Linked DNA regions of Homo sapiens. The protein of the gene in region 1 purifies or fractionates together with the protein of each later gene. This does not show direct contact. Each region holds a gene or a part of one and is shown on either strand. Other genes may lie near its edges. The genes, in order: LRRC57, SUGT1 and MACIR.

The links.
Region 2: the proteins of LRRC57 (region 1) and SUGT1 purify together in Homo sapiens (co-immunoprecipitation; 3 studies listed by BioGRID and IntAct, with this or other methods). This does not show direct contact.
Region 3: the proteins of LRRC57 (region 1) and MACIR purify together in Homo sapiens (co-immunoprecipitation; 3 studies listed by BioGRID and IntAct, with this or other methods). This does not show direct contact.

The regions. Positions count from the first base shown.
Region 1 is NC_000015.10:42,545,121-42,555,644, forward strand, and holds the start of LRRC57 (leucine-rich repeat-containing protein 57), read right to left. Parts: upstream 3,674-10,524; 5' UTR 3,573-3,673; intron 3,337-3,572; 5' UTR 3,315-3,336; coding exon 3,231-3,314; intron 3,125-3,230; coding exon 2,986-3,124; intron 2,410-2,985; coding exon 2,141-2,409; intron 143-2,140; coding exon 1-142. Other genes in the region: HAUS2 (HAUS augmin-like complex subunit 2), read left to right, coding at 3,753-3,845.
Region 2 is NC_000013.11:52,646,779-52,657,489, reverse strand, and holds the start of SUGT1 (protein SGT1 homolog), read right to left. Parts: upstream 4,655-10,711; 5' UTR 4,570-4,654; coding exon 4,532-4,569; intron 4,445-4,531; coding exon 4,387-4,444; intron 4,340-4,386; exon of another isoform or gene 4,254-4,339; intron 1-4,253. UniProt on the Homo sapiens protein: May play a role in ubiquitination and subsequent proteasomal degradation of target proteins.
Region 3 is NC_000005.10:103,261,032-103,271,268, reverse strand, and holds part of MACIR (macrophage immunometabolism regulator), read right to left. Parts: intron 7,376-10,237; exon of another isoform or gene 7,263-7,375; intron 5,362-7,262; 5' UTR 5,272-5,361; intron 1-5,271. UniProt on the Homo sapiens protein: Regulates the macrophage function, by enhancing the resolution of inflammation and wound repair functions mediated by M2 macrophages. The regulation of macrophage function is, due at least in part, to its ability to inhibit glycolysis.

The DNA.
Region 1 (10,524 bases):
GATTGCCTTCCACAGCAAGCAGACAGATCTGGGAATCACTGAGGATGCTCTGGGGAAGCATGCTGAGCTCAAGACAATTCTCTTCCAGGCGAAGAATTTTAAGGCGTGGACAGCAAGATATCTTCACTGAGATCTGAGATATCTATTGAAAAACCACAAAAGAATAACAGGAAAAAGCATAAGCACTATACTGGTTACTTTTAGTACATTAAAACAAAACAAAAATCTTTACTTGACTATTTGTTCTAGTTTTCCCCTCTTTTACCACCTCCATTTTCTCACTGCCTACTCACTCCAGAAGCCTCTGTTATCTAGCTTCTGTTACTACGCCCCCACTTAAAAAAAATGCTTTTATGAAGGTCACCCATGGCTTTTTGGGAACAAAATTTTCTGATGATAAAAGCACTGTATGTTCATTATAGAAAATTTGAGAATCACAGGTTTAAAGAAAAAAGTTTACCTGGAATCCACCACCCAGAAATAACCACCATAAACATTTTGGTACATTTACTGCCAATGTTTTATGTGTACATAGATACTGACCACTTTACTACCAAATTCAAGGATCCATTGTCCTCAGTCCCTACTGCATTTAACTGTACTATCTATCCCTTCCTTAAAACCCCTTATTTTTGTCCTTTTTTGGTTTTTCTTCCTATCTTTTGGATTCTTCCTTACTTCTCTTGTTTTTATGGGCATTTTTCAAGTAGCTGTCTGTAATACTTCATATGTCATCTTCTCTCTAAACTTCTTCTAGAAAGCTCATTCATTAAAGTCCATCACTTTTGTTATGACCTCAAGATCTGTATCTATACTCTTACCTCTATTCTGCTCCCACGTTTCCAACTTTCAGTAAGATATTTCCATTTACAAGATTCACCACAGACAACTCAGCATGTCCATTCTCAATAGCACTACTGTTCCTTTAGGCCCTCAAGCTCAATACCAAGCAATTGTCTTTGACTCACCCCTTTTGCCATTTAAATACTAAAAGTCACCAAATTATTTGATTCTGCCCAGTATCATCTCAGACCATCACTTATTAGAAATCATGGGAACTTTAATAAGTTCAATAACTAGCAATGCAAGTTCTCAGACCTCATCCCAGCCCTACTGGATCAGAAACACTGAGGGTAGGGGGCTAGTGATCTCTTTAAACAAGCTTTTCTGGTTAATTCTGATGCATACTAAACTTAGAGAACCACTGAATAAAGGTACTGGCAGAGGTGAATGTGGAGCAAATCCTCAACTAATACTTGCTGCTTAATTGATTCAGTTTTTTTTTTCCCCCAAGAAGCTCTATAACATACAAGAATATCCACTTAAGGTAAAAAAACATGAGGCCAATTCCTCAAAGACAGACTGAATTTCATCATGATGTAAAATCACTACAATCTAGAAAAGTAATAACCACATGCAGCTTCTGGCCACTTTAATGGACCATGCAGATCTAGAAATACAGACACTAGAAAACTAAAGGCCATCCAGTCTCACAGTGTTTAATATTTCATCACTTGTGCCTTCATGCCTAGACAAGAATCTTTGGATTGGTTTTCCAGACAAATATTAATTGAAAGCTTCCAAAGTAATGGAAACAAATTTCAAATATTATAATTAAAGCTGTACAACAGTGAAATGGGCTATCTCCAGAAAGCCTATCACTTAATATTCTTCAGCAAAAGGAGACACACTTTGTAACAAAGATGTCAAAACCCCACACAAAACGAAAAACAAAACTGAATTACCTCTGACTCCCGACTCTGAGAACCTCAGTTTAGGCCTCATTTCCACATTATATCCCTGACATAGCTCCTGGCTAGCTGGTTAGGGGCATATATTTGAGGAGGATCTGAAGAAGTCTTCAAGATTTGTGAGACAGTAGTTTAACTTTTGAAATGATCTCTCCCTGTTACCTACCCCACCCTCCCCAAAACACCTACACAACTAACACATCCAGTGTCTCAACTAATTCCATGGCACTTTGGGCCTTGAAATTAGTTCAGCCTATAGAAGAAACCTCTCATTTAGCCTCTGATACTTAGCTCTATGATGGCAGTTTAGGAAACAAGAGGTTAACAGGTATCAGGAGACCTTAAAGCCACACATATGCTGTAGGAAAAAAAACCTTAAAGCTCTAGACCTGATTCTGGTTGAGGTTGAGTTCGATGACTTGCAGCTCTCCCACTGAGTCAGGTATACTTCGAATCTGGTTCTTAGAGAGATCCATCACATCCAGGTGCCGTAGGCTACAAAGTTGGGGAGGTAATGCTCCCAGTTGGTTCCCAGAGAGGCTCAGGGTCTTGAGGGCAGAGAGTTGCCCAAAGGTAGACGGCAGCTCTCTAAGGTGATTGTTGTTTAGGCTTAGCGTCTCTAGTTTTTTCAGATTGCATATCTCATCAGGCAGAACAGCTGGCAAAGAAAAATTTTTTTAAAACCTGAATGTGATAGAGCTGAAAACAACTTTGATGAAGTTTATAAAGACTATATGGCAGCCTGCTTCGCCTCTTGTTAATATATGTAAAACTCCCACATGTGCCATTTTTAGATATTGCATTTTACCAACATAGTCTTTAGAAGGTGAGGGTGCCATCAAAATGCCGGAGAGCATTTGTGTGTATAATGGGCTCCTTTTGTAAAGGGGCCCAAGGCACAATCCGACAGCAATTTTGTGATATTTGGAAGATCCTCCCCTTCTCATCCATCCCCCATTCCAAGTTAGGTAGCTTTGTTTACATTACATCCCCAAAATGTTCTTCTCTTTCAAGTCCAAATTAACCCAGTAACAATCATTATAACACCCAATCATTATAAGGCTTATTTTAGATGTAATTACAAGAAGTAGAAAGAAGGCTTCAAGGATTCCGGCATTCGCAACTTGAGCCCTCCTGCACGGTTTCATAACAAAAACAAAAATCAGCTTGTAAGAGAAAACCACCCCTGGTAACAGCTGATCACTAGCAAAAGCCTCCCTGGCGAGAGCCATACTCAGTTTGTTGTTGTTCAGGGAGAGGCTCTTCAGCAGAGTGAACTTTCCTATCAGCAAAGGCGGTAGGCTTTCGATCTTGTTGTTGGACAAGTCGATGGTCCTGAGATTGCTCGTCAGCTTCTGCAAGTCTGCGGGGAACTGGAGAAAGGAGTTCACAGCGTGGGGAATCCCGCACCGACTAAGTTCGCCGCCCCCGCCGTCCCTCTCCCTTTAAGTTCCCTGGTCGTGTCCCTCCCAGTCTCACCTCGGTCAGCCCTCGGTCCTTAAGCTGAAAGACACCAGTTTTCTGCGCCGTTTCCACATGAGCGCGGAGCGCACTGTTTCCCATCCTAGCGCCGCGGCTCAGGTCCCTGCGGGAAGGAAGCGCTGCTGTCACCGCCCAGTCCACCCGGTCGGCCTCCCGGCTGGGGCTCCTGCCCCAGCTCTCAACTCCCGCCGATCCCTGGCTCCTGGGGCCCGACCCAAGAGCGACAAGGAAGAAACGGAAGAACACACAGCCCGACCACCAAGCCCTGCCGCCTTTGCAGCTCTGCGGAGGCCAGGCGCCTCTGGGAGCCTACGGAAGATCAGGGAGCCCCGGACTCGCCTCCCACCGCTCAGCTGCCGTAAGGCTCCGCAGGTGAAGACCCAGGACCCGCAGTAGCCGGGATGCGCTCCCCGGCTTAGTCCCGGGCGGGAACGCCCTGTGACGTCATCGAGCCGCGCCGTGCGTTCGCCCTGCGATCCCGCTCACTCTTGGCGCCTTCGCGGAAGGTGCGTCCGAGCCATGGCCGCTGCCAACCCGTGGGACCCGGCGTCCGCGCCTAACGGCGCTGGGCTAGTGCTAGGCCACTTCATAGCTTCGGGGATGGTCAATCAGGTACGTGGGGGTGGCGGTGGTGTCATCAAGGGGGTGCCCAAGGTGGCAACAATATGGCTGTGAGTTGGTGCTGCTGGCTGTGGGAGTGGTGAGGGTCCTGGTTGGGGTCTGTACTAGAGTAATAAGAGCCCCTTCCAGGCAACAGCCGCGAACGTTCTGCCGTGGATGCTTGGAAAGCGGGGATCTGAGTAGATGGTGTTTAGGGTAGACTGTGTTTTGAGTGTCTGTAGGGTAAATTTGTCCCAGTCCAGTTTGTGGGAGATTAGACTGTTACCAGCCTTTTTTTCATCCAGTGATACTGCCTCTAGACTGTAGTGTAAGGGCGGGGATGGGAAATACGGGTCGTTCTGTCCCCTTGCGGAACAAGCATTTCCAACAACCCTCGTTTGTGGGAAGTGTTGAATCGTATTTGGGGCGGGAGGTGCTGGGTAGAGAAGAGCGCCAGAAGCTCTTTTTTGACATTTTTATTTTATTTTATTATTTATTTATTTATTTATATGAGACAGAGTCTCGCTCTAACGCCCAGGCTGGAGTGCAGTGGCGTGGTCTCGGCTCACTGCAACCTCCGCCTTCCTGGTTCAAGCGATTCTCCTGCCTCAGCCTCTGGAGTAGCTGGGACTACAGGCGCCCACCACCACACCCAGCTAATTTTTTTTTGTATGTTTAGTAGAGACGGGGTTTCACCTTGTAAGCCAGGATGGTCCCGATCTCCTGACCTCGTGATCCACCCGCCTCGGCCTCCCAAAGTGCTGGGATTACAGGCGTGAGCCACCGCGCCCGGCCTTGGCATCTTTAAAGGCAAAAAAAAAAAAAAAAAAAAAAAAGTATTGGCTAAAAAGATAAGACCTTGGAACGTGAATGGAGGAAGAGATTAATTTTGAGAAGGAGAGAAAAGAGACATTAACCCAAGGAGTCACGGAGTGGCAGTTTTAGGTTGGGCAAGAGGAGCATGTCGGAGGAAGGAGCCAACAGAGGGAGAAATTGAACATGTGAGGAAATAATGGAATGCAGTGACAGGAGGGCATGGGGCAAGTGGGATCAAGGGCATTGAGAAAAATGGGGAAATAAATTTTGATATATAGAGGAAGTTGAGAAATTTCACTAAAAAGAAAACAGAAAAGTTAAACTGATCTGTAAAAATCAGCACATATTAGCCGGCATGGTGGCGTACACCTGTAGTCCCAACTACTCCGCGGACCACATGGGTCCTGGAGGCTCAGATGGGAAGATGGCTTGAGCTTAAGAGATGGAGGTTGCAGTGAGATGCGATCGGGCCACTGCACTTAGCCTGGGCGACAGAGTGAGACCCTGTCTCAGGGAAAAAAAAAAAAAAAAAAGCACTACAAACATGATGGAAGATTTACGGAAAATACATAACTTTTTATAGTCAGAAGAGCCATTAGAGACTCTAATACCTTACAGTATTTTTTAATTTAAGAAACTAAGGCTTAGACCAAGAAACTTGCCCATGGTCACTAGACTGTTAAAGGAGAATTAGATCTTAGTACTCTCCCTTTTGACACATTGTATCCCCTCTCAAGATGAACTGTTATAAGAGGCTGTGATACTGTATTAAAAGATTTTAAGCTTTTGTTGAACACCCATTGTCTGGGTGATGGGGAGATTCAGGTGGTCCTAGTTGACTAACTTTACCAGGAGTGACCACAGCACTCTACAGTGTAATCCTTCCTCCCTTCTCTCCTGTGTTTTCTTTTTTTTTTGAGACGGAGTCTCGCTCTGTTGCCCAGGCTGGAGTGCAGTGGCACAGTCTTGGCTCACTGCAAGCTCCACCTCCTGGGTTCATGCCATTCTCCTGCCTCAGCCTCATGAGTAGCTGGGACTACAGGTGCTCACCACCTCACCCGGCTAATTTTTGTATTTTTAGTAGAAATGGGGTTTCACCATGTTAGCCAGGATGGTCTCGATCTCCTGACCTCGTGATCTGCCTGCCTCTGCCTCCCAAAGTGCTGGGATTACAGGCGTGAGCCACTGCACCCGGCCCTCTCCTGTATTTTCTTTTTCTTTTCTTTTCTTTTTTTTTTTTTTCTGAGACATAGTCTCCCTCTGTTGCCCAGGCTGGAGTGCAGTGGTGTGATCTTGGCTCACTGTACCCTCTGCCACCTGGGTTCAATCAATTCTCGTGCTCCCGAGTAGCTGGGACTACAGGCACCTGCCATCACACCTGCTAATTTTCATATTTTCAGTAGAGACGGGGTTTCACCATTTTGGCCAGGGTAGTCTCAAACTCCTGATCTCAGGTGATCTGCCTGTCTCGGCCTCCCAAAGTACTGGGAGCTGAACCCAGCCTTTTTCTTCTTATCAGGTTACCTAGTACTCTCACTTGTATTGTCCAGTTCTCCTGTCACAAAATAGTTTGGCAAACTCATAATAGAAAACATTTTTGAGGGTTCACTCCTGTAATCCCAACACTTTGGGAGGCCGAGGCGGGTGGATCACCTGAGGTCAGGAGTTTGAGATCAGCTGGGCCAACATGGTGAAACCCAGTCTCTACTACAAATACAAAAATCAGCCGGGTATAGTGGTAGGTGCCTGTAATCCCAGCTACTCGGGAAGCCGAGACATGAGAATCGCTTGAGCCCTGGAGGTGGAGATTGCAGTGAGCAAAGATCGTGCCACTGCACTCCAGCCTGGGTGACACAGTAAGACCCTGTCTCAAAAAAAAACAACCCCCCAACTTTTGGTACTTGGTATCCCTCTAAAGAGCATTGGTAGGAAATACAAATGCCTAAACCAAAGGAGTAAGGCACTGGTGACAGAATTTCAGGCATTGATGGGTGAACTCTTTTTTGGGGGTGGTGGTTGTCTTGGGGGTGTCTACTGTCTCTCAAGTAACATTAATTAGACAGTTACTGGTTTTACCTACAGTTAACATGTCCCACTCCATAGCTCCTTAAGATCCCACTCCATAGCTCCTTAAGACTTCTGACAACCTTACTACACAGCTAGTCCCAATGAGGGAGCTATTTACAGACTTGTAGGTTGGTTTTACTTTAAGCAAACTTTATACATAAAAACTTTTGTCTCTTTTTTTTTGTTTTTTTTGTTTTTTTCCCTGAGACAGAGTCTCACTCTGTTGCCCAGGCTGGAGTACAGTGGCACAATCTTGGCTCACTGCAACCTCCGCCTCCTTGGTTCAAGCAATTCTCCTGCCTCAGCTTCCTGAGTACCTGAGATTACAGGCGCGCACCACCACGCCCGGCTAATTTTTTTAATTTTTAGTAGAGATGGGGTTTCACCATATTGGTCAGGCTGGTCTCGAACTCCTGACCTCAAATGATCCACCCGCCTCGGCCTCCCAAAGTGCCGGGATTACAGGCATGAGCCACTACACCCAGCCAAAAACCTTTTCCTATTAGAAGGATTTAGCATTGATTCTTTCAAAATGATTTGTCACGTCATCCCTTCAAACAGCCCATCCCTTTAATGCACATCATTTTTTGTGCATTAAAAATTAAGACTATTGAGTTCCTGCTGGCAAGGATTTTTTAAAAATTGAGTGATTCCTAAAATTGTGATTTGATACAACTCTTCTAGAAAACATAGCTTGTTTGAAGTTTTGTTTCAATCTGTTAGAGAGTGATTTGGTGAAAGAAAGGTAGGGCTATCTGTAGGATAATGGGGTATTGCTTTAGTTTATTCCCCTAGGGACTGCTTTAGTGGCCTTACATTCTAGATATTTTTCCAGCAAGTGTGAGTGAGTCATGGAGTCTTGACCAAAGCTTGATCATTGCTTATTGGCAATTAATAAGATCAGGGTCTGGATCTACCAAAAAACCCACAGAATCTACTAATTCTGTTTTCTTAACTTGTGTCCTACTCTCCTCTATACCTCTTCTCCCATTTGAGAGCCTCTGCTCTTAAATTCTCTGCTATACTACCTCCCTTTTAATGTCCCTCAGCTAGAATTCAGTATGAAAAGGAAGGGATAGGAAAAAGAAGAAAGAGTGCCCACCAATTACAAGTTTATACATACATATATGGTATATAATGTTACCAGGATTTTTTTTTTTTTTTTTTGAGATGGAGTTTCGCTCTTACTGCCCAGGGTGGAGTGCAATGGCACGATCTCAGCTCACCACAACCTCCGCCTCCCGGGTTCAAGCAATGCTCCTGCCTCAGCCTCCCAAGTAGCTGAGATTACAGGCACATACCACCACGCCCGGCTAATTTTTGTATTTTTAGTAGAGACGGGGTTTCACCATGTTGGTCAGGCAGTTCTCGAACTCCTGACCTCATGATCCACCTGCCTCGGCCTCCCAAAGTGCTGGGATTACAGGCCAGGATTTTTATATTAAGTATAAAGGTTCTGGATTTGAGCTTCTTCTTGTGCCTAGCCACGGAATAAACAGAAATACCCTGAATAGACTCCTTTTTCTCAGGATCCTTTCATTTTCAGGGTTCTTTTGCCCTTTGGGGCATGTAATAGCAATATATAGTAACAATAGCTAAAGGAAAAGACTTTTCTGTATTCCCCAATCCCTGATACTTTTTTCTTTTTTTTTTTAAATGTGTTAAACTAAGTCTCAATCCTCAAATAGTTGTACTTCCTATTTATTATGGAAAATAAGCCTCCACCTCCCTAAGTGCAGGGATTACAGGTGAGAGCCACTGCACCTGACCCTCTTTCTTTCTTCTCTCCTTTTTTGTTATCTGCTTCTTAAACATTCTTATTTTTCCTCTGGTTTCTCTTGCATGTTCTTAGCTAAGCACCATTACTCTATTGTTGAACCCGACAGTTTACTAGTTTGCCAGATGTACAACTAAGATTAGTGTGTAAGCATGGAGAGAGGGAGATATACCAGTGAACAGGTTGGTTACAATGTGATAAATTGTAGAAAATATTTTACTTTCATTTACCTCCTGAGAGAAACAAAGAAAAAAGGGTCAGCTGATATGATGGAAGGGCAGTGGATTAGATGTGTTCTCACTTCCATCTTGGCACACACTGGCAGTGTGAAGTTGGAGTAATACTTTCCTGTTCCTCAATTTTGCCATCAGTAAAATATCTTGTGTTATCTACTTCAGTGAATGGCATAACTCTGTCCACTCACCTGAAGCAAAATCCTTAGAGTATTAACTGGATTTTATCCCTTACCATATCAACTAAGATTTGTCAATTCCATCTTTGCAGGAACTCCCATCTTTTCTTCCTTTCCTTTTTAACTGTTACTGACCTAGTCCACATTCTCATCCTTACCTGGAATACTGTAGCAGCCACCTGTTTAAATATCCAACCTCTCCAGTCTATTTCTCCACTAGTGTTTTTTCTTTATGTTAGCTAGTTACCAGGGTTTTCCTTCTTTTTTTTTTATTGTGGTAAAATACATATAACATAAAATTTACTATTTTAACTGTCTTAAAATGTACACTTCAGTGGCATTTACTATACTCAATATTGTGCAACTATTTTCAAAAACATCTTTATCACTCCAGATGTAAACTCTGTACTATTCCCTATTCCCTCCTCCCTCTTCATTAGTGTTTTTATTTTGTTTGTTTTGTAGGTGTATTTTTTTTTTTTTAAGAGAGAGTCTCTCTGTGTTGTTCAGGCTGGAGTGCAGTAGTGCGCTCACAGCTTACTGCAGCCTCAGCCTCCTGGGCTCAAGTGATTCTCCCATCTCAGCCTCCCTAGTAGCTGGGATTACAGGCATATGTCATCATGCCTGGCTGATTTTTGTATTTTTAGTAGAGACAGGGTTTCACCATGTTGGCCAGGCTGGTCTCCAACTTCTGATCTCAGGTGATCTACCCCCTCGGCCTCCCAAAGTGCTGGGATTACAGGTGTGAGCCACCACGCCCAGCCAGTTTTATTTTTCATACTGCCCCAGTTAAATATCCCCACCTTCCCCGCCGCCGCTGAGACAGGGTCTCACTCTGTTGCCCAGGCTGGAGTTGCAGTAGCATGATCACAGCTCACTACAGCCTCAATCTCCCAGGCTCAAGGGATCTTCCCACCCCAGCCTCCCAAGTAGCTGGGACTATAGGCACATGTCACCATGCCTGGCTAATTTTTTTTTTTTTTGAGACAGAGTCTCTCTCTGTCATCAGGCTGGAGTGCAATGGCGTGATCTCTGCTCACTGCAACCTTCGCCTCCTGGGTTCAAGCGATTCTCCTGTCACAGCCTCCCGAGTAGCTGGGACTACAGGCACGCCACCACACCCAGCTAATTTTTGTATTATTAGTAGAGATGGGGTTTCACCATGTTGGCCAGGATGGTCTCGATCTCCTGACCTCGTGATCTGCCCACCTCGGCCTCCCAAAGTGCTGGGATTACAGCCGTGAGCCACGGCGCCCGGCTGCCTGGCTAATTTTTTTAATTTTTTGTAGAGACAGGGTCTCCCTGTGTTGTGCAGGCTGGTCTCAAACTCCTGGGCTCAAGCAGTTCTCCTGCTTTAGCCTTCCAGAGTGCTGGGATTACAGGTGTGAGCCATCATGCCAGCCTGTATTTCTAAATAAGTATTATGTATGATTATATTACTTCTTCACCAGAAAATGTTCAGTTGCTCCCATTTTCTGCAGTATGATTGTTGAGCATAGCACTCAGGATCATCTATGATTATGTTGGAGACTATGTTTTCAGCTACATCTTACCCCTCTTTTCACATATATGCTAACACTGGTGGTTATTGAGCATTTGTAATGTTTTTGATCTTTCTA
Region 2 (10,711 bases), on another chromosome or scaffold:
AAGCCATCAAATTCTAATTAAAACATAATTTTTAATCAAGTAACTTATTGTCAGAAGCTATTTGGAGGAAAGATAACACGGATATAATATTGGAGTTTTTCCTTATAAAAGGATCAATATCTCCCCCACTTCTCTTGCCCCTCCTCCCAAAAGTAGGCAATCTAATGTAGCATCTCTGTACCGTAAAGCTTTTAGTTCCTGGTCTATAGAACTTAATAAATGATCATTATTATCAGCTCATATATTCTGAAGAGTTTAATTGTTACACATTGACCATTACAGATTTCCTCCTACTAATTTGAAGAAGATTCAAACACCATATAGAATTTGAGATTCCTAGAAAATGTTAAGCTGTGCAATAAAAAAAGACCAGAAGTTAAATCTAGCACTCAGGGAGGTTAAGACAATCAATACATACACAATCAAGTGTACCTGGCCCTCTCCTAGCCTCTAACAATAGCACACAACTCTAATAAAACCCAACTAAATATTCTGTTCAAAGCCCAGATACAATCTAATAGATGGCTATGTCAACTACCAAGAGTTAACATTAGAGATTGAAACTTTTTTAACTTGTGCAGTCACAACATATAGGTGTGGTAGCTGGAAAAATAATGATGTAAGAGATTACACAATTAGGGAGATCAAAGACAAGTGCAGGAACACTTTTATTTTCTGCCAACTGCCTACAAACTCTAGGGATTTGGTAGTTTTCTTAAATGGTAAAATTATTTCAAGAGCCACATGTATCATTGACTTTGCTTTAACCTAGTAGTGTGACTCTCAGAAAGCAACATATACAGATGCTCCTCAACTCACATGGGGTTACAGTCAATCAACAGAAAGTAAGGCTCAAATCAAGAGAGCAAAGAAGCTGTAAGATGCTACTTTAAGGGCCTCACTTTGTAGCTTGCAGGCAGTTATAAGGAATTTGGACCTTACGTTTGATGGAAAGCCATGGAAAGTTCACTGTTAGTAAGGGGAACATGGTCCAATTTACTTTTTTTTAATGTCATTCTGGCTGCAGTATGGTAAATACATTATCAAATCAAGACTGGAAACGGAGACTTCTTAGGAAACTATTACATTAAGTCTAGGCTAGAAAAGGATGTTAGCCACAGAGGTGATGAAAAGAAATACGATTAAGTTGGAACATATTAGAAGCAGAGAGACTTGCTAATGGGTGAACATGTGGGATAAGAGAAACTGAAGATGACTCCAGGGTGTTGGGCTTGCCTAGATCTGTATGTGACATCCAGTAATCACTCAATGAAAAGTATTGATTTTTCTTCTTGCAGACTTTTTTCAGCCTTTTCCCCAGTCTCTACTTTGACTGCATCTCCTTTGCCATAGAATACAAAAATATTTGCCTCTCTAGTCTTAATCTTCTCAAAGTCACTAATAACCCCTTATAAAATCCAACTGATTCCTATCTGACTTGATCTCTCTGTGGCCCTTGACAATAATAACCAGGCCTTTCAGCTTACCATTCTGCTGCCTCTTAAAAACTAATGTTCTCCTTGGGCTCAGTACTTAAGACTTCTTCCCCTCTACAAACATTCTTTGATTCCTTAACTACTGGGGGGCTTCACATATGTGTTGATGCATGCTGATGACTCAAGTCTATCTTGAGCCTAGACAGTGGTCCTGGGCAACATCAGCATATAGTTTTCTCTAAACTTTACCTGAAATGTCCCAGAGGCAACTCATATACAAATATTCACAATCTAAAACTACTTTCTATCCTCAAACCTATTCCCCCATGCTGAAGGCAATCTTCTAAGTGCTATCATCCTAAGTGCTATCTAAATGAATGGCACCAGTTCCTACAACATTCCCCCAGCCAGAAACTCAGGAGACATCCCTTATATTCTAATCGTCACCAAGTCCGGTGCATTTTACATAAAACAACTCACCTCCATGCCCTCAATCACTGCCCTACATGCAAATATTCATCTTTGACCCGGTCTGCACTACCATCTTCCTGCTATCCACTATCCCTTGTGCCTCCTCCAATTCGCTATCTACTCTGCTTTTAAAGTAGGTTTTGTAATTCAGAAAATTTCATTTTCCTTCCTCCAAATTCTTGACGGATCTCCATAATCATATGATAAAACTGAAAACCCTGTGCTGGGATTTAATGCCTTTGATGGCCTGGCCTCACTGTCGCCTGGGCTGGAGTGCAATGGCGCGATCTCAGCTCACTGTAACCTCCACCTCCAGGGTTCAAGTGATTCTCCTGCCTCAGCCTCGCAGGTAGCTGATTACGGCTGCCCACCACCATGCCCGGCTAATTTTTTGTATTTTTAATAGAGACGGGGTTTCACCATGTTGGCCAGGCTGGTCTCGAATTCCTGACCTCGTGATCCGCCTGCCTCGGCCTCCCAGAGTGCTGGGACTATAGGCGTGAGCCACCGCGCCCGGCTGCACTTCTAATGAATTGCCAGGTGATGCTGATAATGCTGGTCCAAGAGCCATACATTAAAAACCAAGGTACTAATACTAGCCACATGACTATCCTAGGCAATTCTTCTCCTAGGTACATACAACCAAAAGAAATGCATGTGTTCACCAAAATACATGTACAAGAGTATTCACAGAAGCTTTTTGTTAGCTAATAACTAGAAATAACCCAGATGTCCACTGTTAGAATAAATTGCGCCGTACTTACGGCTATACAACATATATTTATACAATGGAATATTACACAGCAATGCGAAAGAACTACTACTTCACACAATATGAATGTATACTTATGTAATCATTAAAGCAAAAAGAGTGTCTACATTCAATAAAGCACCTACTGTATGATTCTGTTTATGAGTCAAGAACAAACAAAACTAACTGATGGTGATGGAGGTCAAAGCAGGAGTCAGCAGGACAGTAAGAAGAATTACTGGCTGAGAAGGCGCATTAAGGAGCATTATGAATGGAGATACTCTGTATCTTAATCTGGTGGTGTAAACATGTGAAAACTCATCAAACTATAGACTTAAAATCTGTGTTATTTACATAAATCATATATGCCTCCATAAAAATTTTTAAAGTAAAAGAAGATGGAAAGTGACAATAAAATTCATTATGTTAATACTGTTTAAAAGCAACTTTTATATAAACTGGATTCCCAAAGGAAGCACTAGGTCTAACACGACAATAACAAATGTAAATTAAAAGTCATAGCTGTCTAGCTAATACAAGAAATTATGGAGAAAAATTCTCAGTGCTTCCTGTAACATTATCCCCAAACTCATCCCAGAAGCCTTACTCCCAGTATCTAAAGGTCTATATATTTAGGTGTAAAAAACACACCTGGACCCTAAAAGGCCTTATAGGACCTGGCTCCTAGTTTCCTGTCCAACCTCTCTTAATCAAATGGGCCCTCTAATAAAAAGGGCCTTTTTGTTGCTTCACATACAGGCCAACTTCATTCCTACCTCAAGATCTGCACTGGCTCTTGGTCCTGCCTGGAATATTCTTTCCCCAGAGCTTCCAAGTTAATTCCCTTGTTCCTTCAAATCTCCACTCAAAGATCTCCTCAACGGAGGCTCTAGTACCATGTGGCACATTTCTTATAAAAGTCATAGCTAGAAAAGACGCTGTCTTGCCTCAAATTGTTAAACGTAACAGCAAAACAGGTTTCCTCTTTTCTGTGATTTAACGCAAAAACAAACAAAAACTCCTGGCTAAATTCTGTGACCCGCAGCATCATTTATCTTTAGGTTCTCCTTTAATTCTTATTATTTAACTCTTGATCTTTTACATTCCTTTACAGCTTTATGGTTTGCCTTCATTGCACACCTACAAAAAGTGATTTCTAGGTTAGCTGAGTATATAACCAAGACTTTAACCCACAGCAATCAGCGCCTTTGCACACAGCCACTCCAAAAAAAAATTTTGATGAATATACAAATGAGTGAATAATGAATTGTGATAAGACATCTGGAAAGTTTCAGGGACGTGAGGGAAAAGGGTTTTGCTCCAGTAGACTGACTTCATACCGACACTTTTACGTAAGAATGGCAAGAATTATTGTCAAACGAAAAAATTAACTTCATCGAGCCCAGAGTCCACTTCTCTAATCATAAATGTCATTAAAAAAAAAATCCTTTCAGCCAAACTACAAATGCCAACCATGCTCCCAAGAAATAGAGGAGGTTTTTCTCAGGAGCTGTAGGGAGTGGAAAGGGCAAGACAGGAGTCTGGGGTAACGCGGCTACCGTGTAACAGAGAAAAGAGACGGAGAATCTCAATACCGGAGCTGAGACGCAGCATCAACAAGAGCCTGGGTCCCTGTCCGGCGGTGCGGGGAGAAGGCGGGTCAGCGGGGACCCGAAGTGGCCCAGCTCCCCTAAGAAGAGTGGAGGAAGCAGAAATGGGCTCTCTCACCTCTAACGCCGCCTGGGGGTCCTCGTCGATTAGGGCATCCGAGAAGCTCTGGAAAAACCTGTCAGGAAAACAACGACTTCAGCAGGGCTCACTAGCCAAGGAAAGGGGGATAAAATAAATACCAAAGGGAAAGAAAAACATGCACCTCTGGGATGTTGCAGTTCCTGCTGCAGCCGCCGCCATCCCTCGTAGTCGCTGTTGCTGCCGCCGGAGCTGCTACTATCACGGTTACCACCTCCACCACCGCCCAAGGGGGAAACTTCTGGAGAAACACCAACCGAGCTTCCGTCCTAAATAGCCAGCGAGCAGCCACGCAGCGTGCTGCTAGGGGGACGGGAGGCGACACGCCGGCGCGGGGCCGGCTGGGACAGTGGAGGACCGATTCCTCCCAGCCGCACCCCGGCCCAGGACCCGCGCTCCCAGTCCCCGCCCCTCGCAGCCATGGTTACGGAGGCCTGGGGCGTACACGTTCTTCCTCCCTTCCACCGCGCCCACGCCAGCGGGCACTCCCACGGAGCTTTCAGTAGTACTTTAGAAGCACTTTTGTAACGTACTGTCATCCCTAAGGAACGTGTGGCGGTTAGGGGCGTTTGTATGTCTGTTAATAACGGAAGCTACTTCGAGCTCCCATTTTCCCTAGTTTTTATCATGGCTGCCACAGCTAGCCAAGCCCTTTCGCCTCCATTACGTCTTTAGCGGCTGCGTGGTCTCTTCCGGGAGCAGAGGCCCGGATGACGCGTGGATCCCCGCGATCTTTGGGCTGGGGATTCTAAACGACTGGGACTTGCCGGAAGTCATTCTGCACTAATAGCGGCAAAAAGCCTTCTGGTTCCTGGGGCGACGCGCCCGGCGGCCGTACTATTCACTTCCCCAGAACGCCACAGCCCAGGCTTTCTTCTTAGTGGGCTTCCCAGACCAAGAAGGGAAACCTTTCATCCGAAGGTACTGAGGGGAGGAAGGTGGCCTGAAGTTATCTCAGTGCCGCTTTGTTTCCCACCCCAGTCGGTCAGCCCTTCCTCAGCGCCCTTTAACCCTTGCAGATCGGATGGAGAAAGCTGCCAGCACGTTCTAGGGATGGGGGCAGATTGAGGAGCGGGAGGGAGTAGTCTTTGTCTAACTTTATACCAGTACCAAACTATGTTAATTTAATGTAGTTTTATAATAAATCTTTAAGTCCTGTAACTTATTCTCCCAAGATTGTTTTGGCTTATTCTACGGCCTTTGTATTTCTAGGTGAATTTTGGAATTAGCTTGTTAAAAAGGGGGGGGATTTTTTATTGGGCTCGCATTGAATCTATAGATCTGTTTGGGAAAACTAGTATCTTAACAACAAGTCCTTCAATCCATGAATATCATTCTTCCCCCACCATTTATTTAAGCGGTCTTTAATTTCTCCTGGCAATATTTTGTAGATTGCACATATATCTATATTTTAATGCAGCTGTGCTTGGATAGATTGCAGTATAGAGATCATATATATCTTTCATTAGATTTATTCTTGAGTATTTAGTGTTTTGTATACAATGTTAAATGGCATTTTGACTTTTTTATATTCTACTCGTAAGAATAAACAATATTGATTTTAACATACTGACCTTATATGCAAGCATCTTGCTAAGTTCCCTTGTTATTTGTAATACTCTGTAGATTCTTTCGGAATTTCTGTGATCAAAATCTTGCAATCCACGAATAAAGATGGTTTAACTTCTCTGTAACCTTTATACCTTTTATTTTTATTTATTTTTGCCTTTTGTTGCTGGCTAGTGTTTCCACTATTGAATAAAAACAGTGATAATGGACTTCCTTGTCTTGGTCATAACATCAGGAGGAAAGCATTGAATATCAACTGCTTTTTCTGCCTTTATTGAAATGTTCATTTGTATTTTTTAATGTTACTGTGAATTACCTTGGTTAGTTTTCAAATGTTATCTAAATGGCCAATTGTCCTTCTGGACCCCACTGACTCCAGTTGGGATGGCACTGTAAGAAGAGAGGCAGAGTCAGTGAAGGAGACAAGGTTTATTCAGGATTTACATACAAGGGTGGTCCGGTGGTGGAGGGCTGACCTGGAGAACTGCTACCATTTGTAAAAAGCACGTAGTCTATATAGCATTTTCACTTAGCACTCTCCTTCTAGCAACCTCCATTTAACCCCAAAGGGCCTTGATCTGTACAGCGTAAGATACGGGCCAGGGATGTGGATGTCCTTCATAGATAAGGAGTGAATCTCTGGGTTGGCTGCTCCTGGATTCCTTAGCCCAGGACTCCAAACGTAAGTTCTTCTTAGACCATAGGGTTAGTCTCAGGTATGCTCCGGTTATGGCTCAGCCATACACTAATGTGTGTACACCAGCCTCTGCCATGCACCAATACACATATATGTATGGCCTCTGAAAGGGTGAATTCCAAGACCGCCCTATGGGCCCAACATGAAAAGAAGTTCTATATATTATGGACATTGAAATCAATGAGATACCAAAACTACCACCAGAATGGCTTAAATTAAAAGGACTTCCAATACCAAGCACTGACAAGGATATGTAGCAACTGTATCTTTCATATATTGTTGGTGAGAGTTTAATCATTTTGGAAAACTGTGGTACCGTATGTCTGTTCTTGCATTGCTATAAATGAGACTAGGTAATTTATAAAGAAAAAATGTTTAATTCACTCATGGTTTTGCAGACTGTACGAGAAGCATAGCAGTTTCTACTTTTGCAGAGGCCTCAGGAAGCTTCCAATCACCGCACAAGGCAAAGGTAGAGCAGCCATCTTACATGGCAGGAGCAAGTAGGGTGGGGGTAGGTGCTACACATTTTTAAACAACCAGATCTCACAAGAATTCACTGTTGCAAGGACAGTACCAAGAGAGGTGGTACTTAACCATTCATGAGAAACCCACCCCTATGATCCAGTTACCTCCCACCAGGCCCCACCTCCGACATTGGGGATTGCAATTTGACATGTGATTTGGGTGGGGACACATATCCAAACTATATCAGACACTATCTACTAAAGCTAGTTATACACAGACCATAACCCAATAATTCTACCACTGGGCATATACCCAAGAGTATTTATTATTTATGATCATGTAGAAGAATATTCATTGCAGCATTACCCAAGGTAGCAAAAACTGGAAATAATCTAAATGTCCTTAAATAGGAGAAAAAAATATTACATAGCAATAGGAATGAACGACTACTACACACAACGATATGGATGAAGCTTATATACATAAGTTGTGGTAAAAAAAAAAAAAAGCCAGACGGAGTACATCATGATTGATTCCACTTAGATGAGAGGTATCATAAGGGAACCTCCTGGTTGTCAGGGAGGGTGGGGAACAGGAGCATGAAGAAATCTCGGATGCGGGAAATGTTACATATCTTGATCTGGCTGGTAATCACAGCAGTGTATTCAAACATAAAATTTTATCAAGTTATGCACAAGATTTGTGCAGGCTGGGTGCAGTGGCTCACGCCTGTAATCCCAACACTTTGGGAAGCCAAGGCAGAAAAATCACTTGAGCCCAGGAGTTCAAGACCAGCCTGGGCAAGATGGTGAGACCTCGTCTCTACAAAAAATAAATAAATAAAAAACATTAGCCAAGCATGGTGGCGCGTGCCTCAGCTACTTGGGAGGCTGAGGCAGGAGGATCGCTTGAGCCCAGGAGGTTGAGACTCTTATCGTGTTACTGCACTCCAGCCTACGTAACAGTGTGAGTCTCAACAACAACAACAAATTGTTCACTTTGATTTTGCAGATTCGTTTGAGGAGAAATGATATATTTCCCTTGTATTGCCTCTTCCAGTCCATGAACATAATTGCTTGTTTCATTCAGTTATTCGTATGTCTTTTAGTAAAGTTTTTATAATTTTCTCCATAAATTCTTGGCATCAGTTTATTGAAATCTTGGGAGGAAGGACAGACAAATGCTTAAGAAGTTATTAATAAATGTTTTCAGCCGGGCACAGTGGCTCACGCCTGTAATCCCAGCGCTTTGGGAGGCCGAGGCGGGCAGATCACCTGAGGTCAGGAGTTCGAGACCAGCCTGGCCAACTTGGTGAAACCTCATCTCTACTAAAAAATACAAAAATTAGCCGGGCATGGTGGCAGGCACCTTAATCCCAGCTACTTGGGAGGCAGAGGCAGGAGAATCGTTTGAATCCGGGAAGCAGAGGTTGCAGTGAGCCGAGATTGAGCCATTGCACTCAAGCCTGGAGGACAAGAGCGAGACTTATTGCAAAAAAAAAAAAAAAGTTAAAAAAAAAAGTTTTCATGTGCAAATGACACAACTAAATATACCAATGTACTTAGCTTTGGTAATTTAAAGAAGGGGAGGAGTAACCATGCTGGATTAAGTGGGCATTTATTGAAGGATAATTGATCTTCAAATTGAAGAGTGAAAATAGTCACTTATACTGTGTTACCTAACATTTTCCTAGGAAAGGGATCCTTTTCATTTAAAAGAGAAAACCATCCCAGTCTAACATTGAAGCCATCCTTAAGTGTATTACACTTGATAATTTCAAACTGAATCTAACAAAATCTCTTATTTGTGTCTTTTTCACAATAAAGCTTTCCCAAAGAGAAGTTTAAAAAAAAGAGAGAAAATTTTTAAAAGATTTGTACACTTTACCAAGTTTATACTTCAACAGAAAAAAGATTTAAAACAAAATCAGTAACAATCAAAATTTTAAATGCAAAGAGTCATGACATGTATAGTAACATCAAAATATTAAATACTGAAAAATAAATCTGACAAAAGATATGCAAGATGTGCACCGAAAACTAAAAAATATTGCAGCCAGGCGTGGTGGCTCACGTCTGTAATCCTGGCACTTTGGGAGGCCCAGGCGGGTGGATCACCTGAGGTCCAGGCTGGCCAATATGGCGAAACCCCATCTCTATTAAAAACACAAAACAAATTAGCTGGACGTGGTGGCGGGTGCTTGTAATCCCAGCTACTTGGGAGGCTGAGGCAGGAGAATTGCTTGAACCCGGGAGGCGGAGGTTGCAGTTAGCCGAGATTGCGCCATTGCACTCCAGCCTGGGTAATAGAGCAAGACTCTGTCTCAAAAAAAAAAAAAAACCCAACAATATTGCCGAGAGAAATTAAAGAAAACTAACAAATGGAGAGCTACTCCAAATTCATGAGTCAAGAAGACTCAATATTGTTGAGATCTCAGTTCTTCCAAGATTGACCTATAGACTCAACATGATCCCAATCAAAATCCCTAGTCAGGCATGGTGGCTCATGTCTAATCTCAGTTCTTGTTGGGGCTGAGGCAGGAGAATCGCTTAGAGGCAAGGAGTTGGAGACCAGCCTAGACAACAGAGACCCCATCTCTGAAATAAAGTACATTTAAAAATCCCAGAGCTGGCTGGGCGCGGTGGCTCACGCCTGTAATCCCAGCACTTTGGGAGGCCGAGGCAGGCGGATCACAAGGTCAGGAGATCGAGACCATCCTGGCTAACACAATCAAACCCTGTGTCTACTAAAAATACAAGAAAATTAGCCAGGCGTCATGGCAGGCACCTGTGGTCCCTGCTACTTGGGAGGCTGAGGCAGGAGAATGGCGTGAACCCGGGAGGAGGAGCTTGCAGTGAGCCGAGACTGCACCAATGCACTCCAGCCTGGGCGACAGAGCAAGACTCCGTCTCAAAAAAAAAAAAAAAAAAAAAAAAAAAAAAAAAAAAAAAAAAAATCCCAGAGCTTTTCCCTTTTAGAAGTTGACAAACTGATTCTAAAATTCAAATGGGGGAAAAATTCAAATGAAAATGCAAAGGACTTACAATAGCCAAATCAGCTTTGAAAAATAACAAAGTTGGAGAGATAACATTACTTCATCTCAAGACCTGTCAACCTTGTGGTATTGGCACAAAAATAGACAGATTAATGGAACAGAGAATCCATAAATAGACCCATACCATATGTAGACAGCTGATTTTTAACAAAGGTCCAAAGGTAATTCAGTGGAGAAAAAACAGTTGAAAAGGAGAGACTTTAAAACAGACTGGATATACATGTGCCAAAAAGTGAGTTTCAGTGTGTATCTTTGCACCATGTACAACAATTCACTCAAAATGGATTATGGGGCTACAACTCCTATAAAACTTCTAGAGGAAAGAAAATCTTTGTGATCTTGGGTTAGACAAAGATTTCTTAGCACACCAAAAGCATGATCCATAAAAGAAGAAATTTGTAAATTAGACTTCACCAAAATTTAAAAGATTCTACACTATGAAAATATTTGCAATCACATCTCTGATGAAGAGCTTGCATCCAGAATATATGAAGATGTCTCAAAACTCAGAAACT
Region 3 (10,237 bases), on another chromosome or scaffold:
GACCAGCTTTGAAAACAGGTGGTAAATTTGACAAATGGTATAGAAAGAATTCTTTTTGAGAAACACCGTATCCTAATACCTGTATTTCATTTAAGAAACTCAAAAAATTAATTGCTTCATTAGCTTTCCTATATATAGAGTTCATTTATACATCAGCAGCATGCCTGTTAAAAAAAATTCCAACTCCCCAAACCTTTAGCTGAGATGTCAAAGGCATGAAATTCTATTGTTAGACTCATTCCGCCAAGTTTAATATTGCTCTTTTTTGCTGTCTTCTCTTAAAACACCTTTATTTTTCTCTATTACAGACTGAATTAGTTTATCAAACATATTTTTCATGATAGGAGGGATATGGTAAAGGTAGGGTACAATGTAATTCTCATGGAGAGAAAGAAAAGCAAAGGTTCCAAAAAGCTGAGAATGTGACTTAACACCAAGATACATCCAGATATTGCCCACAGTCAGCTCCTATGCTATAGGGTGTCTGAGTCAGTGACACACTCCTAGAAACAAAAATTATTTCACTAGGCTCTAAGCCTGGGGCACCATCCTACTTGCTAATTTCTTTAACCATACACAGAGATATCTCAAAGAGGTCTTAGAGTCCATGAACATTTTTTATAACCACCTTTCCCTTCCAGAAGATACTTTCTATCTTTTTCTTACCTCAATAACCTGCTCAAGTGATTGTTTTTCCTTGTTATTGTTTTGAAACCGATAAAAGCAATGCATGCAAACTGAAAGCTCTCCAGTCCAAATAATTCATATTGATGTACTATAAATGGCAAAATCATTCTTCATCCCCTACCAATGCCGGACATATCTTGAGGAAACCCCTATTAATATTTTGGTATATCCTTCCTTTTTCCGCGTATTTACAAATGTAAGAGTGAGTGATTACTTCTTTCTACAATGAAAACATGCAAGAGTACACATAGGCACACATGAATATTTCTGCAGGAAATTCCAGAAGTAAAAATGCTGAGTCAAAGAACATGTACTTTTTAGATTTTTATAGCAAGCACCACAAAACCTTATTAATAATGTTTCTGGTTTTTATATGGATATTCTTTTATATAACTAAAAATTAATGTAAACACTTTTAAAGAGTATCATCTATACACTCACCAGAACAGTGCCTGTTTCTCCTCTTATTGCTTAGAAACAGGAATTATCAAAAGAAGAAAGGAGATGATGTACTTCCTTTTGTTTGATGTGTTTGATTTTTCCAAGAAGAAAAAGATAAATGAAAGGGACATGACTGCCATTCTTTGACCTCAAATCTCCTGATATTATTCTCACTTAAAACACTTAGATACCTCTTTAAAGAAATTTACAAACTAAATGTAAACTTTCCTTCAAAAAAGGAAAGATAACATTTCATTCATTTATATATATTACAAAAATATATACAGTGTACATTTCAAAAGCATTAGGTACAGCATTCAATACCCCAATACCAGTATTCTGGCTGAGACTAAAGCAAACAGGTCCAAACCATAACACACGTGAGTGGAACCCCGTGCACCAAGAAGAACAGTCAAGAAAGTAGACCTGTATAAAATCTGCACAGCTTTGAACACTCTTCAAGAGGCCAAGCTTCCTATCTATTTGGCACAAAGAGCAACATTTTGAAAATATGATCTAGATGCCTTAGCTCCTTAGACCAGCTCTGAAAATAGCTAATAAATTTCAGAACTGCTATACGAAGAATTCTTTTTGAAATTGCATTCTGAGAATTTTTAAAAATAAGATTATAAAAAAAATTCACTCCCAGTAATCAAAACACTGCTCCATATGCTTTCACTGTTTTTTTTAGCAACATACAGCAATACCATATAAGAGAAAACAGATATCAACATAACCATTTTAAATATGCAGAATAAAAATGTCATCATGTTAAGAAAATCCTTTTCAAGAAGTACTTGAATCAAACCATTTCTTATAGAGCCATTTTTGGGGAAACAGGGTCTCCTAAGCATGGCTAATACCAGTCTAGTGATATCATGATATCTAGAGCCACCTATTTTTGTGTTTTTTGTTTGTTTGTTTGTTTGTTTAGACACAGGGTCTTGCTCTGTCACCCATGCTGGAGTGCAGTAGGGCAATGATAGCTCACTGCAGCCTCAAACTCCTGGTCTCAAGCGATCCTCCCACGTCAGCCTCCCAAGTAGCTGGGACATAGGTGTGCATCACCAAATCTGGTTAATTATTTCTTTTATACTTTTAGAGATGAGGTCTCACTATGTTGTCCAGGCTGGTCTCAAGCAATCCTCCCTCCTTAATGTCCCAAGTAGCTAGAATTACAGGTGCGAGCCACCGCCCCTGGCTAGAGTGGTATAGTTTTAATGCCAGAATCATCTTGGACATAACCTACCTGGAACATCCACCTTGAAATATAGAGAAGACACTGAAACCACCAAGACAGGGTCCTGCCCAGAGCCACATAGATAGTTAATGCCCATAATTACAACCCAGGCCCCCTGGCTCCAAGTCCATGTTGTGCTTCTAGCATGTGGTTCCCAAACTTGTCTACACCAGAATCATGCAAGGAGCTTCAAAAACTGCTGATGTCTGTTTTCCATCCCAGATTTGTGATTTAACTGATCTGGGGTGTAGCCTGGGTTCTGCAAGTTGTAAAAGATTCCCAGGTGATTCTAATATGCATATAGGTTTGGGAACTTGTCAGATAGAACTTATCAGATAGAAGAGTTTCACTCTTTTAAGTCCCTCCTTTGTTTTTAATCAGTAATTACTGTATAGTCATGTTGGTGAACATAATTTTTGGCTGCTTATAATTGCTAACAACCTACCCCTAGGCCTTCTAATTTACTGTTCCTAATCCTCTGTGGGCTGGAAATATCTGCTAACCAAACGTGTTAAAACTGCATATAAAATAAAAATAAATCTGTGCTGAATGAGAATCGGGCTCCTTCATCTGCACACACTTTGGCGTAGTTATTTTAGCTACTTAGAAGCCTTTGTCAGGTGCAGCTACGTTAGAGAACAGTTTGGCATTTACTTATAAAATTGAATAAATGTTCATTAAACAACACAGCCACCATACTCATAGATATCTAACCCAAGAAAAATGAAAATACACGTCCATACAAACACCTGAATGTGAATATTTATGACAGCTTCATTCACAAACACCGAAACTGGAAACAATCCAAATATCCATCAACAGGGAAAGAGATAAACAAACTGCAGTCCATCCCTACAATGGATACCACTCAGCAATGAAGTGGAACAATCTGGGGAAACATTAAGTGAAAGAAGCAGACATTACACCTATATACTACATGTTTCTACTTACGTGGCATTCTGGAAAAGGCAAAACTATTTGCCAGAATCAATCATTAATTGCCAAGGCCTAGGGTGGGGAGAGGGGATAACTACAAAGGGGAAAAAGGGAATTTTGGGGGGTGATGAAAATGTTCTATTTGTTGACTGTAGTGGTCATTACATAACTGGATACATTTGTCAAAATGCATCAAACCGTACACTTTAAAAGGACGGATTTTACTAAGTTATAATAAACCTGACATTAAAAATAAATGAACTCTTTGTCACATATTTCCACGTTTCAGATGGTCCTCCAAATTTTAAATTTTTTTGTACCGTATAATTTTGGAATCAAAAGGAATCTTAATAGTTTCCCAGTGTATGTTTGAACACCTTCAGTGACAGGCAACTCACTGCCTCCCAAGATGACTCATTTCACCTTGTGCAGCTCTGCTAGAATGTCGATTTATTTACACATATATCTGTATGTACATGCATATATACAGTCAACCCTGTCTCCACGGGTTCTGCATCCATGGATTCAACCAATCACAGAGAGAAAATATTTGAAAAAGCAAAAAATTACATCTACACTGAATATGTATAGACTGTTTTCTTGTCATTATTCCCTAAATAATACAGTACAGCCACTATTTATGTAACATTTACATTGTAATAGGTATTATAAGTAATCTACAGATTATTTAAAGTATACAAGAGGATGTGCATAGGTTATAGGCAAATACTATACCATTTTTGTATCAGAGACTTACGTATCATCAGATTTTGGTACCTGGGGGAAGTCCTGGAACCAATCCCCCAAGGATGCCAAGGGACAACTGTATAAATATAGGTATATACAGAGATAGATGGATAGACATAGATACACATACATTCCTGTAGTTTCTACCCATTGCTCTAGTTTTGTGCTTTATTTCTATTAGCTGAGTCAGTGACCAGGCCACATTGTTTTTTATTCAATATCCTCTCCAAGTACTTTGTACTATGGTTTTCAAACTTCTTACTCTTTTCCTCAAAACTGAAAATTTTAGTAACGTTTCCAATTTTCCAATGTTCGAAAATGCATTTTCATAAATGTAATAGGTTTTATCTACTTAATGAGATTAAAGTATTTGTTTTTCCCTACCATTCCTTTGAATCATTCTGCTGCTGACTAGAAATTTAGAAATCACTTATTATGAAACTCCGCTTTCTCTAAGGATTATGATCTCTTTACATAATTCAAGGCAAGGATGCACAAAGATAATGGCCAAGTAGAATGACACACCAAAGCATGAAGTCACACTAATATAGTCTTAAGGATGCTAAAGAGCTACCATAGCTCATTATGAATTTCTTTTTTCCCTTCAAAGACTTCGAGACACATGGACAACTATGTCAGCAAAGATACACAGATGACACACTGAAAAAAGACAACTAAAGGAAGAAAACAGCATTGCATATTTTTAACCGTTTAAATTCAGGGTGTGATAAAAAGAATGTCACATTTTCAGTGAACTGCTGTACGACTAAGTGAAAATAATGCTCCTTTCAGACACCTGTTGGCTCATTCTTTATGTATGATAATATATAACCAGAATTTTTTGCAAATTATTTCAGCAATGTTTGGAGATTAATGTTTTTACTAAAATTTGCCCCAAATTGGAACAGTTACCTCTAACTACTATACTTTGAAATATTATTTCATAAGATCTTTACGTTGAAGAAATTTAAAGGAAGGAAAACTTAGCCAAACATTTCAAATAAAATAATGTTTGCATATTGCAACAATAAGTTCATTTCTCACCATTAAAAATTTGTAATTATAGTATACATATTTGCAATAATACACCAACATTTCACATTCACTTGATTAACTGACATTTCACATTCACTTGTTTATTTATGTAGTCTTTAAAAAACACATTATGGTATTGTGTTCATACAACTGTTAACGAACGGAAAAAGCAAAATATAACTTACCAGACTAAATCCCAGAAGATGTCACTGTACAATTTCCAATGAGTCCCAAGGGAACACAGACATAATAATTTTTCTGTTCTACTCCAGGTACTAAACATGAAATACAAAAATAAACCTTTAATTTAACAAGTAACACAACTTATAACATGATATCAATTCTAACTGCAAAAGAGAATAAAACTAGCAGGAGGTAGTAACATCAAGTATAGGTTATATAGGACCCAATAATTAATTAATTCAATTGATGTTGAGTTTGTTCACCTAAATGCATCCTCAAACATTTTATCATGTGTATTTCTCTGTACTCTGTTACTTAAATTCTACCTAGAGACTAGGAGTACCTAACTGGGCTAAATAAAGAGACAAGAAAAAGTAAGGTAATAAGTATTGGTTTCACCATCCTAGTCCTATTCATGTGTTCAACCGATTCACAGTACTCTATGGAAAAAAAATAATGCTTAGGCTAGGATCAAAAGCACAGGCCATAGTTCCTAGCTCTGGCCTTGCCAAGAACTCTGCCTCTTGACCCTGCATAAATATCAATCTCTAAAATGTGGACCGTAATAACCCCCCTTCCTCCCTAATACAGTTGTTAGATGGATCAAATGAAATGAGGTAGGTGAATGCTTTACATGCTGCAAAGCTCTTTACAACGTGTGATGCTATTATTATGCAATTAATTTTTGGTATCGACTCATTGTAGCCATAAAGCAGCAACAATGTAAATCTTTCATAAGACTGATGCGAGGCAAATGATTAGAAGTCTCTTGGATAACACAACAAAAAAAGAGAGTGACTGAAAAAGCACTTTTTTATAGTTACCACCTTACTTAAGGTTTCTAGCATCTCCTCTGTGCCTTCCCTCTCTTACCTGGGAAGTTAATGTGTAAGAGAATCTATCTTTATCTCCTACCTCCCTAGTTAATAGGGTTAATTTGCTGAGACGAGGAAAACCCTCCAAAGTCCTTTTCCACCTGTAAAAGTTTCTTTGGTTGTTGGTTTTCTGTTGGGTTAAACAACAGAAGCAGTTGGAGGGGTGTCAAATGAAGCGAGTAGATTCATTTTATCTATGTAGGTGCACAGAGCCCAAGAAGTGTCAACAGTACAATACCTTATCAAACAAAAGACAAACTGCAAGAAAAAAGGCAAGGAGTTTGTAACTTTATTACTTTCCCTACCAGTACAGGAGAGTTTTATCCAAAGGAAATAGATAATTACTGAGTTTAATATGTGCTTCTTTAGCTTGAGAAACTGGAAGGAGCCAATGCACCAAGAACTGTCACTCCAAGAAACTAGCATGTTTATCAGCCTTTGCAACTTCTTCAGATGTAGATAACAGAAACACTCCCTTTCATGTATTTTGCCACCAACTATTCTCAAATTGGGGAACCAAAAAATCTTGAAAAGTAAGCCTTGATTCTACCCCACCAATGAAGCCTCTGGTTTTAACACACAGTAAATTGTAACAAAAATTGTTACCTACAGACAAAATGTTTATTTAATATAATTATCCCAAAGAATTTCCCCAATACTAATAACATTCATCTGCATTTCTTATTTAATGGATTTTTAATGGGAAAGAGGAGTTCTAAAAACGAACATTTCTTTAGCATCTTCCTTATGTCAAAAGTGATATACAATTTATATCATTTAATCTTAACTACTCCATGAAGAAAATATTATTATCCCATTTTTAAAGTACTCTTTAGTAGTAGCCCTATTTTAAAGTACTCTTTTAAGTGATACTACATGAGAGTCACAGCAGGAATTGGAACCCCAATTGGTCTGACTCCAAAGATCATTTACTTTACACTCTGGCCTCTGTTCAATGATAAGACAACATGTATAGCCTTTTACACAATAATCATGATCCCGCAAAATGTATATCAAGTAATTTCTATAAGTGAAAATCTATTTTAAGTGTATGGGTAGGCACTTTATCTAAAAGCTTTATTGCCTCATTTGTGAAATGGTTGGGGGAACTACTTAGCTGCATGGTTATTTCCAACTTGAAAAATATTAAGATTTGGTGGCACATCGTGGAAAGTCTTATACAAAATCCTTCTGAATCATGGACTCTTTCTCCTATGAGCTTCTATTTTCTAAAATCATAAATTATGCGACAGAAAAAAAGGTATCAACCAATACCGTCTGGTTATATGGTTGGATATCAAATACAGTTATATATTTCCGCTTTATTTCTCAAGACTACATCTATCACAAAGTGGGATAGATTTCATTTATACTTTTATAAATGTCAATTTAAAACAAGCAGGAGGAACATTAGAAATATCTGAATGTCTTAATCCTAAAGAATAGTTTTGACAGTCTTAAATCTCATTCAAACTTTCATATAATTTGCCTCATGTATTTGGTGACATATTCTTCTTTTTAAGCTTTTAAATGCATTAGAAAAATATTTACACTTTCAAAGAGTTTCTTTTTCAACATCAAAAGAAAGAAATCAACTAAAACTTTAGTCTGGATTTGAAAGCAGAGGAGCCTTGAAGACATTACCCAACTCTTGCACTGGAGCTGATGTGTAAATCTAGGAAATGATCGGTAATTTCATAGTAAACAAAGAGTAGTAACTGATTATTCCTATTATGCCAGTGCCAAGCCAAAAATAGAATATAAACACAATGTCCAAGGGAGCAACACAAGAAAACCAAGGTGCAGAAGCTCCATTACATTCTCACTTTTTCTAATTTTGACTCTGCTTCCTGCTTTGTGGGAGGAGGAGGAAGAGCAGGAGGAGGAGGAGGAAGAGCAGGAGGAGGAGGAGGAGGAGGAGGAGGTATATGGTGAAAAAGAGGGAAAAATAAATAAAAAGAACAAGACCAGAAACTAACTAGTATAAGATTATACGTTTTCTTTAAGACATAACCCATAAAGAAATCTACTACAAAATTACAGTAAGGGTTCTACCCCCATCTCCCACTTATAACAATTAAAAGATTGTAATATAAAAATTCCCAAAACATGTACCTTTCAAATAACACACATTTTTAGAATACTTTAAAAATCTATAATTCTCTAACGCTTGCAACTGATTTTGGCCAATGTTCTAAACACTGAAGGCTTGGAAAGATATCAACAGATTTCCTCTCCAAAACAGTCAGCAAGAGGAAAAGGAATCCATGTGAAATTCTTAGAAGATAGACTAAATGCTGCATAAAAACAAAGACTGAAGTAAATAGAGCAAAGGCTACAAGATATAATAAATGCTTCCAGTTATAAGAAGCTGAAACAGAATGCAGTGGGACATTATCCCATAAGCAATAAAAATAGGAAAAAACCAAGCAGTGGCCAAGAGCTGCCCACAGACTTCTGGATAAGAAAGTCATGGGTGACTAAGCAAAAGACACCCAACATTTCACTGCAAGTGGAGCTTCTACAAATAGAAAAGTTTGCAAACATTAACTACCAAATGTATCGAATTTCTCAGGTGATAGTTATTATCACAGGTAAATAAGAATGCCTTTCAAAAGAAGAGTGACTATATATCTCAATTCATAGTCAATACCCTGGCATAATTATTGAAAGCAACCCCCTTTAACTCTCAAAAGTGTCTCAGTTTGGCTGTTTCATTTGTTATCCTACTCAAAAGCAACATGGAAAGGCAATGACTTTTTTAAAAAGGGAAACACCCTTCTGCTTGAACGGTGAATTCCCATACAGGTCTGAGTTCTTTCTTCGGGTGTACCCACTTAGATATTCACTTATTCAGTCATTCAACAATGTTTCTTAAGTCTTATTATATATCCCCACACTATGCAGGCACTGGTGCACATATAAAGAGATGGCCTGAGACTGGGTCAGAGGGGAGGGCAGACATGGAAATAAATCCTTCTAATAACAGTAAACCTGAATGGCACTAGGAACCCAAAAAAGGGAGTGCCTTTCCCAAAAATATACAAAGCTCCATTTGGAAATGTTTATGTCCATACAAAATTCGTAAACACACAAAAAAGTCGTGAATCTCAAGCTTCAGCACAGATCACTAACAAAACAGCAGTAAGAAAAAATTTAACAACATTGATCACAAATCATAAGACTATAAATATGAGGACCAGCACATAGCCCTTTCAAATATTGGTAAATAAAAATCACATTCATCATTAAAGTTTATATTATGAAAGGACAAATTTTAGGCAGAGAAATTGGTACAGTAGAAGCTGTGAGTTCTAATTCTAGCTATCAAAACATTTATTTTCATTTTTTTCATGGCCCTAACCTGAAGCCCACCAAAACATTTTCAAGAAAGAAAAGAAAGAAAGAAAGAAAGAAAGGAAGAAAGAAAGAAAGAAAGAAAGAAAGAAAGAAAGAAAGAAAGAAAGAAAGAAAGAAAGAAAGAAAAAGAAAAACAGGTAGTATTTTCAGAGTGGCTATTTAAGAAGAGACCACTAATGGAAAAGCACTTGGAAAAAAAACATCAATTTTTAAAAATTCTTTCAAAATAGTGAAAATATTTTGTAACCACTAATCTCAAAGACCACTAAAAACAAGTAAAAGATGAACCAAAACATCTCTGGAGGAATACTAACTGAACACTAAGCAGAAATAAAATGGCTTAACTGTCAAAGTACAACACAACAATGAAAACAAAATGTTTAGCTGCACCTAGATGCTCATCTTAGAGGCTTCTTTCAAATATTCTTACTTTACCATTTGCAACTTGCAAAAAGTAAGTCATCAATACTCTTTAAGAAGAGTTAACTAGGGTGTGACTTTTCTGAAACCATCCTTGACCTTACAAACAAACCATTAACCTTGCCAACTTTGTAAGATAACCCATAATTCGTTCAGTAAGACAAAAATGTGTTTCTCTTTCTAGTATCAGTTCTTTTAATAGCAATCCACCCCCTTAAAGTGCAGCACTCATTATCTTTCCATTTCTGCTAGTAAAAATTAAACCTAGGTTACTAATATCTTCTTATCACGTGGTGTCATCCTTCTACTTTTA